Homo sapiens: one gene and its partner. The protein of the gene in region 2 purifies or fractionates together with the protein of the main gene of each other region. This does not show direct contact. Each region holds a gene or a part of one and is shown on either strand. Other genes may lie near its edges.

Evidence for each region. Proteins that work in one complex are often made in the same cells at the same time.
Region 1: the proteins of C20orf96 (region 2) and CFAP74 purify together in Homo sapiens (co-immunoprecipitation; 2 studies listed by BioGRID and IntAct, with this or other methods). This does not show direct contact.

Annotation. Positions count from the first base shown.
Region 1 is NC_000001.11:1,923,778-1,930,800, forward strand, and holds part of CFAP74 (cilia- and flagella-associated protein 74), read right to left. Parts: intron 6,560-7,023; coding exon 6,283-6,559; intron 5,106-6,282; coding exon 5,007-5,105; intron 3,970-5,006; coding exon 3,830-3,969; intron 3,252-3,829; coding exon 3,117-3,251; intron 2,985-3,116; coding exon 2,875-2,984; intron 2,736-2,874; coding exon 2,680-2,735; intron 2,571-2,679; coding exon 2,451-2,570; intron 2,162-2,450; coding exon 2,006-2,161; intron 744-2,005; coding exon 614-743; intron 153-613; coding exon 1-152. UniProt on the Homo sapiens protein: As part of the central apparatus of the cilium axoneme may play a role in cilium movement. May play an important role in sperm architecture and function.
Region 2 is NC_000020.11:273,748-280,770, reverse strand, and holds part of C20orf96 (uncharacterized protein C20orf96), read left to right. Parts: intron 1-1,440; coding exon 1,441-1,599; intron 1,600-2,341; coding exon 2,342-2,441; intron 2,442-3,387; coding exon 3,388-3,545; intron 3,546-3,625; coding exon 3,626-3,727; intron 3,728-3,891; coding exon 3,892-3,978; coding exon of another isoform or gene 3,979-4,011; exon of another isoform or gene 4,012-4,684; coding exon 4,685-4,803; intron 4,804-7,023.

The DNA.
Region 1 (7,023 bases), on a different chromosome or scaffold from region 2:
TTCAAAGAGCACCACCTGGAGCTTGTCGGAGAAGTAGAGGCTTTCGTGGTCGGGGCTGAAGGTGACAGTGAAGTCTTGTGTCTTCCCGGGGTCCATGACGCCCTTGACGGGGGCCACGCTGAACACGCTCTGACCGTTGAGATTCTGCGTCCCTGCGGGTAGGGTGGGGTGCAGTTTGGCCTTCTCCACCTGCAATCACTGTCTGCCCTCCAAGCCTTGCTGCATAGAGCTCTACACCCTGCCCGCCCCCCTGCAGAGCCCCTGTCCTGCCCGGTCCCCCCAATGGCCTTGCGCCCCCCACTCCTCCCATGGATCCAAGCGCCCACCCCCCCCATCTCACCAACCGCCCCCTCCAGCTCACTGCCCACCCCCCCAGCTCACCGCCCACCCCCCACCTCACCAACTGCCCCCCACCCAGCTCACCGCCCGTGCCCGCCAGCTCACCGACCACCCCCCTCCAGCTCACCACCCGCCCCTGCCAGTTCACCGCCCGCAGCCCATCTCATTGCCCAGCCCCCTATCTCACCAACTGTCCCCCTCCAGGCCACTGCCTACTCCCCCAGCTCACCGCCCACCCCCGCAGCTCACCACCCACCCCCCACCCCCCGCTCACCGACCACCTCCGTCCTCTGGGAGGGCGAGCTGAGGAACTGCGGCAGCTGCTGCTGGCCCCGGCCCCGGGTGCTGGAGAGGCTGTCCAGGTGCATGGAGAACTTGATGGGGAGCAGAGAGTTGTTCTGCAGCTGCAGAGAGCAGGCCGCGGTCACTGCCCGCCAGCCCCTGCCTGGCTGCCCCCTTCCTGTCGTCGGTGCCCAGGACTTGGCTGGTGCTATGAGGCCACACCCAAGTGGGGACCCGGGTGGCCTGATGACGCCAGCACACGTGGCGGTTTATTGAGCTGTGTGCCAACATCCCTTCTTCCAGCCTCTCATCAGCCTTTGCTAGGCCGGGGCTCGGCTTCCCTGCCTAGGGTGCGTGGACAGCTCTGGGGTGTCACCTGTCCTCCAGGGCGCCTGAGTCTCGCTCAGGCCCAGCTTAGCTGAACCCACGTCCCCACCTGTGTCCTCCCTGCCCTCACCCCCTCTCCTTAGAGCACCCTTTCTCCATGCAACGCCCGTCTCGGGCTCTGCCTCCAGGACCCGCCCTGAGCCAGGCGGAGAAGCAGGTGTCCCTCCCGGACCCACACTCGTGCGAAGGCATGAGGGCACACGCTGGTGCGAAGGCATGAGGGCACACGCTGGTGTGAAGGCATGAGGGCACACACTGGTCCAAAGGCATGAGGGCACACACTGGTGCGGAGGCATGAGGGCACACACTGGTGCGAAGGCATGAGGGCACACGCTGGTGCGAAGGCATGAGGGCACGCAGGGCAGGGCGAAGGCATGAGGGCACGCAGGGCAGGGCGAAGGCATGAGGGCACATGGGGCAGCGTGAAGGCATGAGGGCACACGCTGGTGTGAAGGCATGAGGGCACACAGGGCAGCGCGAAGGCACGAGGGCACACGCTGGTGCAAAGGCATGAGGGCACACGCTGGTGTGAAGGCATGAGGGCACACGCTGGTGTGAAGGCATGAGAGCACACAGGGCAGTGCGAGGCATGAGAGCACGCAGGGCAGTGCGGCTCACTGCAGAGGGCTGCAAACCCTTGCCCCCGGTGGCTGAGCTGAGCTCCAAAGGAGTGAGTTCAAGCAGCAGGGCAGGGGGTGGGTGGTGGGTGGGGGAGCTCTGTGCAGGGGCTGAGGAGGAGGGACAAAGAGCGCCAAGGAGGACAGGGAGGTGGGGAGGACTAGGGGACATCTGCAGCCTCCCCAGAAACAGGCCCCGGGTTCCCTGCAGGAGAGGGCGGCAGAGGCGGCAGCTGTGTAGAGGAGGGGTAGAGGGGGCCACCTGTGTCCCCACGGGCTCTCCGACCCACGGGTCACTTTTGACAGCTGGCCTGAGTCCTGCCTGGTGGAAACCCCTCCTGGGAGGCTGGAGCCAGCACCAGGGCCCACGTGTGCTTCACCTTGAAGCCTGAGGACACAGACTCTCCGGCAATCACATAGCCCATGTTGAGGACGCTGCCTTCAATGGAGCACGTGATCATGGACGCCACGCCAGTGCCCATGAGGGTGAGGGTGAGCGTGCCTCTCTTGGTGATGATGTCCAGTGTTTCTTGAGCCTAAAGAGACCACATCGCTCAGCCAGGAACCGATGTCTGCTGGAGCCACGAGGGGAGCTCTGCCTCAGGGGCAGTGGGTTCTCAACGCTGGAGTTGAGACAGCTCTGGGGGGGCTCTGTCAGCTCCGCTCACTTGGCGGCTGGTGTGAGGGCCTGGGGGCCAGGCTGCTCGCAGACCCAGGCTTAGTCCCAGGCCTGAGCACAGGTGATGCCCGCCCCGGCCAGTGCCTTTGTTCTGCAGTGTGGGGAGCCTTGGGCCGCAGTGTGGCCAGGGTGGGCCTGGGACTCACCAGGATGCTCTCGTGGGGAGAGAAGGAAAGCACCAGGACCTGGGTCCCACCTGCACGCAGCAGGCTGGAGTGGTTCAGCAGGACAAAGGGGCCGTTGGGGTTCAGCAGGGAGAAGTCCAGCTGAGGGTCCACGTCAAGGAGGGGATACAGGTGTCTGCAGGCTCTACCACGCCCTCCCCGGTCCCCGCTCCCACCCCGCAGGCCGCCTGAGCTGGGTGGACAAGGACACGGCCAGATCCTCGGGAGAGACGTTCTGGATGGAGATCTTCTTGATACTGCGGTGCCCTGAAATGGGGCAGGGAGCGTCAGGCCCCAGCCCCAGGCCCCAGGGAGCGTCTCTGCCAGGGGTGGGCCGTGGGGCTGGGGGAGGCGTGGGTGTGCCTGGGCACCGGGGTGGAGGTGTGGGCGGGGCTTAGCGTCTCACCCACAGCGACGTCGCCGAAGTTAAAGATGGTCTTGCCTTTATGGGACGTCACCACAACAGATGGTGCCACCGTCGGGCACCACAGCTCCAGGTACAGGGTGTTGTGGGGGCTGGGATAGGAAGGGCATGCTGAGGGCAGGGTGGGCGGCCCCCTGCCCGCCCAGGCCCCAGAGTTGGGCAGTAGCAGAGGGACAGCGCGTTTGCGGCTGACCACACCCTGTTCTGGCCAGAGCACCCCGCACCTGAAGCTCAGGGGTTCTGACCCCTTCCTGTCTTTGATGTCGCCACTGGCAACAACACAGGGAACTACAAATGTGTCAAACTTCGCCTGGAACGCTCTGAGCAGGGTGGCTCGGGCGGCCTGGTACTCGTCGGAACTAGAAGGAAGTCAGAGGCTTGCGCTCCCGCCTTGCCCCCACCCACCATCGGCCCAGGCCGGACCCCTGCGGCTCTGCCTCAGGGTCCCAGGGTCCCAGGGTCCCAAGCTGTGGCTGTCCCAGTTGTGTCTGACAAACTGGCTTTTCCACCCTTCTCTGGCTCCTGTGGGGGTCTCATCACTCACTTCAGGTCCTCGTCAGCTGGTGGCTGGAGGCTAGGGGTTGGGGCAGGTGCCTTTGGCCCCTGGCTAGAGAGCCATGTTCCTTCCCGGGGCCACAGGCACCCATTAGAGCTTTCCCAGGGCTCATTCTGCACCCGGGGGGCTGGGTGGGGGGTGGTGGCTTTGCTCCCCACCCGTGGATTGAGGCTGTGTGCAGGGGTGTCAGGCCTGGGGAAATGGGGTGGGTAGGTCCCAGGAAGGCAGCACCTGGATCCAGCTGTGTCTGAAGGCATCAGTCCTTCCAGCCACATGGGTCATTCCGGGCAATCTGTAGGGAGGGGACTCTACAGGGGCCACAGTGGGTCCCACCAGAGGGGCCTGGAGGGAAGCAGGTGGGGCAGCCCCTCCTGGACCCACCTGGGCCTCAGCTCCCGCTTCCGCATCTCCAGGACGTGGGGGACAGAGACTTTGAACAGCTTGTCGCGGTTCTGTGCTCGAAGAACGGAGAATGACAGTCCATGCAGGTCCTTCCTCTGGGGGGCCATATTCTTTCGGAACTGTGGGGGGAGCGACTGGCTGTGGGGCTGTGCAGGGCCCTAAACACAGCCAGCTGTGCCCCGTGGCTCCTCTGCGGCCAGTGCGGGAACCGCGGGAGCCGCAGTTGGGATTGAATGTGGGGACGCAAAAGCCGACCGGCGCCCGAGGAAGACAGTAGCCAGTGCGGAGGGGCACACAGACCCCCACAGAGCTGCTCACAGACTGTGGCGTCTGCTTCACCAGAGGATAAACCGAGGCACGGAGTGAGGAGGCGGCCAGAACCGGGGTCCCCACCCTGGTGCCTTCCCCTATCTTCACCGCGGAAGGCCGAAGGCAAGTGCTTCCCCTCGAGTGCACGCCCAGGAGGAACCCAGGCCGGGAAAGGCAAACCCTTGGGAGGAAGCCAGGCCGGGAAGGGCAAACCCTTGGGAGGAAGCCAGGCCGGGAAGGGCAAACCCTTGGGAGGAAGCCAGGCCGGGAAGGGCAAACCCTTGGGAGGAAGCCAGGCCGGGAAGGGCAAACCCTTGGGAGGAAGCCAGGCCGGGAAGGGCAAACCCTTGGGAGGAAGCCAGGCCGGGAAGGGCAAACCCTTGGGAGGAAGCCAGGCCGGGAAGGGCAAACCCGTGGGAGGAAGCCAGGCTGGGAAGGGTGCATCTGGAGTGTGGCAGGAGCCTCGAGGCCACCTCCAGGGCCGGCACTTGTGGGGCAGATTCTGCAGGACACTCCGTGTTTCAGGTGCGCCTCCCGGGGCCTCCAGGTTGTTGGAGGGGCCCTTCATTGCATCCGCTGCACCCCTGGGTCACAGCCCCTACTGCCCCCACCTCCAGAGCCCACCCTTCCCTGCTCCCGCCTGGCAGTGCCTTCCAGAGAGAAGGGAGGGTCTTGGTGAGCAAGCTTTTTAACCTCAGATACAGCTCGACACGTGCATTGCTTGGGAAAGGTCTACCCTGTGCTCCCGGCACGTGGCCGGAGCCCCCCAGGACTCGAAGGCGGTGGAGTTTGTTCCTGCAACAGGCCCTTCCCCGACCTACGCCCCTCCTTCCCGGGCCCCACGCACAGATTTGGTCTCCATTTCTTTGTTCAGGAGTGGGAGGGCTTCCTGGCGGATCAGCTTCTCGGGCAGCACTGGCCGGAAGGCCACCTGGACCAGGCACCTCTGAGGAGAGACCAGCGTGGGCACAGGGGTTGCCACTTCCCTCCACCTCCCCGGAGCCCCTGCGGGCACTCTACCGTCCTCTGCCCGTGGACTCCCCTCAAGGTCACCTCCCCCTTGAGATTTCAGGCTGCGTGCCCCTTCAGGAAGCCCCTCCCTGACCTCTGTCCCCCAGGAGGCTGGGCGGGCTGCAGGCGGGAGCACCAAACCCTCTGGCCATGCAGGGGGCAGTCCTGTGATTGGAGGTGCTGAGAATAGAGTCCTGGACAGGCCGGGACTGGGTCCCCTGTCCTCGGGGCAGCAGTGACAGCTGAGCCTGCCCTTGCCTTGAGTTTGACGGGCGAGTCCCACACCCTAACCTGGTCCCTGCACACACCAGCCTTTCCAAGGAGCCTCCATCTTGGAAATGGCTTCCCACAGAAGGGTCCCTCCATGACAGAGCCCACAGGCAGTGTGCAGTATGGGGTTGGGGGTGACATGGTGCGGGAGGGGGAGAGGGTGGGGGGAGGGTAGGGGAGGGAGGGAGTGAGGGTAGGGAGGGAGCGAGGGGAGAGGGTAGGGGAGGGAGAGGAGAGCTGCATCTGCAGTAATGTGTGTGGGGGTGAGAACCATCACCGAGTGGCTTTCGCTAAGTTGAATGAAATCCATTTTGAATCACTGCATTCATTGAAATCCCATGTGAGCCAACTGTCCCTTACATGCCCTTCCTCACTTAGGCCTTCGGCAGCCCTCAGGGTCACCCGAAGGCCCTGCCAGGCCCAGAGCTTTCTGCTCTGCAGGAAAGGTAGAGTGCTGGGTGGGAGTGGCCGACACCTTGTCCTCCCAGTCGGCCTGCGAGGTCCACAGGTGCAAGGGACTACACAGCCTTCCCCAGTCTCAACCTGGGAGCCCTGGATGGGTTCCGGCCAGGCCAGCAGCCTGGGGAGCTCCTGCCTCTCGGGGTCAGGCTGGACCAAGGGCACTGTGACCCCCCCCGATGGGGGTGGCCTTGGGCCCCCATGCACATTGGCCATGGATCCTTCCTCGGCCCTGCTCGGGTCTGAGGGTCAGGTTCACTCCCGCCCCTGTTCTCCGGGTTGAAACCCTGTGGTTAAGGGTGGGCAGAGCCAGACACCCCAGGGGTAAATGCAGGTGGCGTGGAGCTCCTGCTTCCCAGCCTGCATGTGGGGCCCACACCCACCTTTCCTGGCCACACGGTCCCCACTGAGGGCGAGATGGTGATAGGCGAGTCTGGGGGCAGCAGGAACTCGAAAGACGTGGGCCCCATGGGAGAGGCGTCCTCTGAGCCAATGCGGGGCTTGGAGTGGGTCGGTGAGCTCATGCTCAGGTGAGAGTTGATGACGTACACTGTAGCCACGGAGGTGTCGTATAGGGCCGTGGCGGCAAACTTGATCTGGTAGTGGGACAGCTCCAGGGGTGGGTGGACGCCTACAGCCCGGCAAGACAGCTTGAAGCACCTGCAAGCAGCAGCATGGGAGGCCCTCAGCCGTGCAGGGCGTCCGTGTCCCTCTGCGGCAGGCGCGGGGGCCACTGGGTGGAGGACAAGCCCCGGGGGGGGCTCACAGGGACATGCACGTTCCTGCTGCCCAGGGGGTCACTGCGCCGCTGACAAGTTTCGAAAATACAGCGTATCCTTGTGCACATTTGAGGTGGGTGGCTAAAAATTTTAAACCGTATTTATTCATTTATAAATAGAGATGGAGTCTCGCTCTGTTGCCCTAGGCTGGAGTGCAGTGGCACTACGACAGCTCACTGTAGCCTCGAACTCCTGGTTCAAGAGGTCCTCCTGCCTCAGCCTCCCGAGTAGCTGGGACTACAGATGAGTGCCACTGTGTCCTGGGTAGCTAAAAATTTAATCACAAGTTTAGATAGTTGCAAAGGAAGTTGCAAAGGAAATTTCTAGCTTATTTTGTTAAATATT
Region 2 (7,023 bases):
ATTCTCTTAGATGGTAAGTGGCTGAGCTGGGATTTGAACCAAGGTGTGTCTAGGTTCAACATCCAAGTCTTAGTCACTACGTGGTTCAGCCATGCCTTGCAGTTTTAAGGCTACTCAGTTCTTGTTTTAGCATAACGGAAAGACAGACATTGGGATTCAGAAGTCTGGCTTTCCAGTTCCAGCCCTGCCACTTCTTGACTGTGTGACACTGGGCAAGTCATTAAACTCTCTGAGCCTCCATTTATCAGCAAAATAGAGTTAGTAAACATAAAGCTGTTGGAGGGTGAACAGATACCATGTGCCACCTGCAGAGCAAGGCACAGCACCTGGCCTGGCATGTAGAGGGCCCTCAGCAATTGTTGTTGTTATTGTTACTGTAGGTTTTATGCACCTGCTGGGTGTAACCTTAGGGGAGTACAATTGTTGTTGTTATTGTTACTGTAGGTTTTATGCACCTGCTGGGTGTAACCTTAGGGGAGTACAATTGTTGTTGTTATTGTTACTGTAGGTTTTATGCACCTGCTGGGTGTAACCTTAGGGAAGTACAATTGTTGTTGTTGTTGTTACTGTAGGTTTTATGCACCTGCTGGGTGTAACCTTAGGCGAGTCACTTAACCCTCAGACCCTCCTTGTTCCACTGGGGGCTGTTGTGTGAAATGAGAGTACTCATTGACTCCGCGGCCTGCCCGGAAATGCTGACGTTTATCATCCATTTTGCCTCCCCTGCTTCTCCTCCAGACATGGCGGTCGCTCTGCCACCTTCTTAACCTACCTGGGGCGTTTATTATTATTATTATTATTGGGACAGGAATCTTCCTCTGTCGCCCAGGCTGGAGAGCAGTGGCGCCATCTCGCTCACTGCAACCTCCGCCTCCCAGGTTCAAGCGATTCTCCTGCCTCAGCCTCCCCAGTAGCTGGCATTACAGGCACGCGCCACCACGCTCGGCTAATTTTTGTATTTTTAGTGGAGACGGGGTTTCACCATGTTGGTCAGGCTGGTCTCGAACTCTTGACCTCGTGATCGGCCCACCTTGGCCTCCCAAAGTGCTGGGATTATAGACGTGAGCCACCCCGCCCGGCCCTTACTATTATTTCTATATTTCATTGATTCTGAGAAGCCATTGATATGAAGGCACATCTTTATTTACCCACTAATAATATATTTGTTGATTAGTTGGTGACACGCCACCAACTGTAGATGCACCCGCACCTCAGGGATGTGAGATGATGGGTACACGTGCGTTTCCGAACGGATGAGAGTCCCGGAGCTCCCGGGCGGCGCAGACAATGGGGAACCGCCCAGCTTGGGCCGCGTTTACCAGCAGGAGGCCGCACGGGGGCGGGCGTCTGGCGGGGCCGGGGCGGCGGGTCCACGGGCTTTCGGGGGCTCAGGCCGGGCAGGGCGCAGCGCCGCCTCTCTGCTCTTCCCTCCGCCCGCAGACCTCGCTCAGGAGCGGGAGGGCCGCTCTGCGAGAGCTCCGAAGCCGTGAGAACTTCCTCAGCAAGCTCAACCGGGAGCTGATCGAGACCATCCAGGAGATGGAGAACAGCACGACCCTGCACGTGCGGGCCCTGCTGCAGCAGCAGGACACCCTGGCGGTGAGACCCGCGGCATCCGCCCGCCCTCCGTCCCTCCGTCCCAACCTCCGTCCCTCCCTCCCTCCCTCCGTCCCTCCGTCCCGCCCTCCGTCCCTCCCTCCCTCCCTCCCTCCGTCCCGCCCTCCCGCCCTCCGTCCCGCCCTCCCTCCGTCCCTCCGTCCCGCCCTCCCGCCGTCCCGCCCTCCGTCCCTCCCTCCCTCCCTCCGTCCCGCCCTCCCTCCCTCCGTCCCGCCCTCCCTCCGCGCACTCGCGCGCCCTCTCCTGCCTTTCCCCGCCCACTGCACGTGGTGCTTCCTCCACCTGGAAGACGCATTTCTTCACCCTTCACTCCCCTCACCTGGGCTTTGCAAGAGGACCGAGATGGGTTTCATCCCAGCGCGCCAGCACTCACTGGCCGGGAGACTTTTAGTTAACTTTGCCTCCCCGAGCTCTGTGAAATGCGGCACCATAGCACCCGTCCCAGAGGGGGTTCACCGGGCACATACTGTACCGGTGCGACAGAGGTCGCTGCTACCACCAACAGCATTTGCAAACACCTCTACGTGTAATAGCAAGCGATCTGTATGTCTTTATATAGTCCTTACAACAACCCTATGGGTGGACACTGTTACTGTCCCGATTAGCCTCTGGTCAGGTTTCTGGGAGTGAGGTTGGGACTGGGGACTCCTCTGAGGAAGTGCTGGGTGGCCGCCTCTGAGAGCCAGCAGAGCCTGTGGGTGAGTTGACTCCACCCCTCCCGCAGACCATCATCGACATCTTGGAGTACTCAAACAAGAAGAGGCTGCAGCAATTGAAATCTGAGCTTCAGGAGTGGGAAGAAAAGAAGAAATGCAAGATGAGCTGTAAGAATCCCTGGCAAATTCCTTGACCCTCCCCCCTGGCACCTTGGGGAGGTCAGCAGCAGAGCATTCACCTTGTACTTGCCATTCAGAAACCCTCAGCCCCATTGGCTCTCTTCTTGGCAGATGGGAATGCTAAGATACAGAGCGAATAGCATAGTTACCCAACACTTAGCTCTTTCCAGGCCCCGTATCTGGGTCTCTACCAATGTCTGCATTGTTACAGGCACACACTCAGTCATTGCAACTACTTGGAGGCAGGGAAGCTGTCCTCCCATTTTACAGATGAGGAAACCGAGGCTAAGAGAGGTGCAGTAGCTTGTGGAAGGTTATATAGCTAGGAGCCAGAATCCAATCCTAGCCTGGCTCTGTTTCCTGCCAAGGTCCTTCTGGGAGTCAGTGGCTGGGCTAGAACCTGGGTCTCCTGGCTTCCATCCTGCCTGGCCTGTGGTTCCTTTTCCCTGAGCAGACTACACACCTGCTGAGCAGAGGGGTGGTGGATCAGTCAACCCCAGACATTGGGGGTCTCTCTGGAGGAAGACAGGATAGACTTTGTCTTAATCCTGCCATGGGTTGTGTCTTGGGAGCCACTGTCACCCCATCTGCCTGGTCTCACTTCCTTGAGTGTGTCTCTGAGGAGACTGAAGTCTGGAGAGGGACAGTCTTGGCGAGAGCCACCCGGCAAGTCAGTGGCAGAGTGGGGACTAGTCTAGGGATCATGCACCAATTCCCTTCCTTTTTCCTACCCAGCATTGCCTCTTCTCCTGCAGGGGTGGAAAACCGTCTAGAGCCTTAACTTTTAACCACCTCCCAGCCCTGTGTGAGCTCACCTCAGCCCAGACCCCAGTTACTGGCCAAGGAGACCTTGCCTCCTGGGCCTCCTGGGGCCCAGGTGCTTGAGGGAAGGTCTTGCCTCCTGTCCCTGCTGACCTCCCTAACCCCTCCCCAGATCTTGAGCAGCAGGCAGAGCAGCTGAATGCCAAGATTGAGAAGACCCAGGAGGAAGTGAACTTCCTGAGCACTTACATGGACCATGAGTATTCCATCAAGTCTGTCCAGATCTCCACTCTTATGCGCCAGCTGCAGCAGGTTAAGGACAGCCAGCAGGTAGGGGAGCCCCTGCCCCTCTCCCACCAGACTGTGTGGGAGGCAGGACTGGTGACCAACACCCTTCTGCTGGCTCCCAGGATGAGCTGGATGACCTCGGTGAGATGCGCAGAAAGGTCCTGGAATCCTTGTCTGACAAGATTCAGAAGAAGAAGAAAAAAATTCTGAGTTCTGTGGTGGCGGTGAGTAGCCAGTTGCTGTGTGGGAGCGGGGATCCAGGTCTCACCCCCACCCCGCCCTCTTCCCCATCCTCTGCCTCCAGGCCCACTGCAGCCCCATCGGTCTCTACCATGTTCTGCTGCCCAGGAAGAGGCACCTGGGGGCCAGACCTCTTCTTCCTCCACAGGAAACCCAGCGTCCCTATGAAGAGGCTCTCCTACAGAAGATGTGGGAAAGCCAGGACTTCCTGAAATGCATGCAAAGGTTCAGAGAAGTGCGTGGGCAAGGAAGGTGGTGGTCCCTGTAGGGAAGCAGTGGATGGGCAGTCCCCACGGCCTGTGGGAATGAGTCAGGCTTCTCCTGATCTGGCGCTCAGGAGGTCTCTGACTCTGGTGTTGGCCTCCCTCCTTGCCGGTGCCATTACTGTCACTTGTCTTTCATCTGGGAAGGCGATTGGCACTGACCTAGGCCTTGCCTCATTAGCCAGCAATGCTGGCTAATGACCCATTTACAACCATCACCAAACATCACCTATTCAGCCATTAACCACCGTGCATCTTTACCCCTTGATTCTTGTTACTGCCCACCACCCATTATCAGTGTTAATGAACTTCACCATCACTGCCTTCTTGAATTAATTTTCATTATCTTGCCTCTTCACTGGTTTTTAATGTGTATGCCCTTCACTATCTCTGCCAGCCTCCATTCATTCCCATGATTGAGCATTCCCCGCCACTTTGTAACCTGTCTCCATTCTCCATGATCCCTCACCTGTTTCAGCACCACTGAATATTGTCACTAACTTGGAAGCCAGCCGCACCTTGCATGGGGAAGTCCCCTCCCTGGAGTCCAGCAAGTCCCAGTGACAGAACCCATACCATTTCCCCAGATAGCTTTGCTCCTCGTTCATTTTGGCCTTTCTCCCTTTGGTTGGGGGCCATTTGCCTCTCCCTTCTCCCCTGCTGTGCCTTTCCTCTCAGATTATTGACCAGTTTGAGGAGAACATGCCTGTATTAAGGGCCGAGGTGGAAGAGCTCCAAGCCCAGACCCGGGAACCCCGAGAGGTCATATTTGAGGATGTTCTGCTTCGGAGACCCAAGTATGTGATCTTTTTGCCACTGCCTCTTAAACCAGTCACACTCTGAGCTCACGGAGGCTCTCTGTTCTTGGGGAAGGCAGCCTGGTGTGGATGGCAGAACCCTGTACAGGGAGGGAGGGGCGGTCCTGGGTTTCCACCTTGGATCTGCCACTGACCAGGGGCAGATGTGACCTTTCCCATCTCTGCAAAGGCCTCCAATTCCCATCTGTACACAGCAGGCTGGGTGGTGTAATCTCTAAGGGCCCTTCTAGTTCCCAGATCCCATGTGTCAACCAAGTGGGTACAGCCTTCCACTTCTGGGTTTTTGAGGAAGGCAGAGTTGAGTGGGGTGGTTGGCTTCAGGGAAGAATAGCCTGGAAGACACTCTACAAGGAGAGAAGTCTGTCCTGTTCACTTGGCAGGTTTCTGGGCCCCAGAAACCAATTCTTTGCCTGCCCTTCCTTGGGGCAAGCCCTCTGCGGTTGGGTTGGGGGTCCCCCAGGCTTACCTCTCCTTGATGACACCACAGGACCATGTGTGGCAGAGCCTAGCATTTGCAAATTCTTTAATTTTTCTTCTTCATCTGTCTCTCCCTCCTGTCGTTTTCCTTCCTTCTCCTCTCCTATCGCCATTTCTTCCTTTTCTTCTATTTCTAAACCGCCCCCCGCCCCCAAAACAAAATACTATTGGATTTATGAAGTGCCTCTGAATGCCAGGCACCATGTGAATGAGAACAGTCCTTGGTCCCGCCCTCATGGAACTAAAGAGGGAACTGGACATGAGTCGATAATGAGCCACAAATAAATGTGGAGTTGCAGCAGAGCCCAGAGCTGCTGAGTAGAGTACATGCCACTGCAAAAGTGACTCTTAGGAGCTGGGTGCAGTGGCTCACGCCTGTAATCCCAGCAATTTGGGAGGCCAAGGCCGGTGGATCACGAGGTCAGGAGTTCAAGACCAGCCTGGCCAAGATGATGAAACCCTGTCTCTACTAAAAATACAAAAACTAGCTGGGCATGGTGGCGGGTGCCTGTAATCCCAGCTACTCGGGAGGCTGAGGCAGAGAATTGCTTGAACCTGGAAGGCGGAGGTTGCGGTCAGCCGAGATTGTGCCACTGCATTCCAGTCTGGGTGACAGAGCGAGACTCCATCTAAAAAAAAATTTTTTTTTAATTAAAAAAAAAAGAAAAAAGAAAGCAACTGTTAGGACAGCAAGTCTGGGCAGTCAAGGAAGGTTTTCCTGAGGATGTGACATTTGAACTGAGGCTTGAAGGATGCATAGAAATTCACTAGGTGAAAGAGACTGATGGGGGAGCTGAAGGAAGAGCAATTCTAGGCGGTGGTGCCAGGGTCTCCGGGGGACGTAATAAATAGTCACTTGTCTTTACCTGAACTCTGAACACAGTGAATGAGACTGAAAGGGGTAAGGTGCATGTGGGCCAGGTTATCACCTTTATTCTGGTAAAGCTGATTTTAGAGACTGTGTTGGCCTCTGAATAGTGAACCCAGAATTAGGCAAATTGAACCACCCGATCATGGTGGAGCTGGACCCACGTGGAGCCAGGCCTTGGGGCAGAGAAGAGTGGAGTCCTTTCGGGTTTCTTGCTGCTGAGAGAGAAAGGGACTGGGCTCCCTGTGTCCCCTTCCTCTCCTCACACTCACCATTCTGGTGGTCATACCCCCTTTCCAAAAGCAGAATTTAAGGGGGCAGAGAGAGGCCAGGAGCAATACACTCATGGATGCCCTTCCACGTGGAAGGGAACACCAGGAGCAAGGAAGCACATTTTCCCTCCTAAAAAGTAGAAATGGCACACTGTTAAGCAGAGCCTCTCCAACTGGAACATGCCCAGGAAACACCTGGAGATCGCGTTAAAAAGCAGATTCCAAGTCAGTAGGTCTCAGTGGGGCTCATGAATCTACATTTCTTTTTTCTTTTCTTTTCTTTCTTTCCTTCCTTCATTCCTTCCTTTCTCTCTTTTCTTTTTCTTTCTTTCTTTCTCTCTCTGTCTTTCTCTTTTCTTTCTTTTTCTTTCTTCCTTCTTTCTTTCTTTCCCCTCCCTCCCTCCCTCCCTCCCTCCCTCCCTCCCTTCCTTCCTTTCTTCCTTCCTTCTTCTTGAGACAGAGTCTAGCTCTGTCTCCCAGGCTGGAGTGCACTGGCACCATCTCAGCTCACTGCAACCTCCGCCTCCTGGGTTCAAGTGATTCTCTTGTCTCAGCCTCCCGAGTAGCTGGGATTACAGGTGT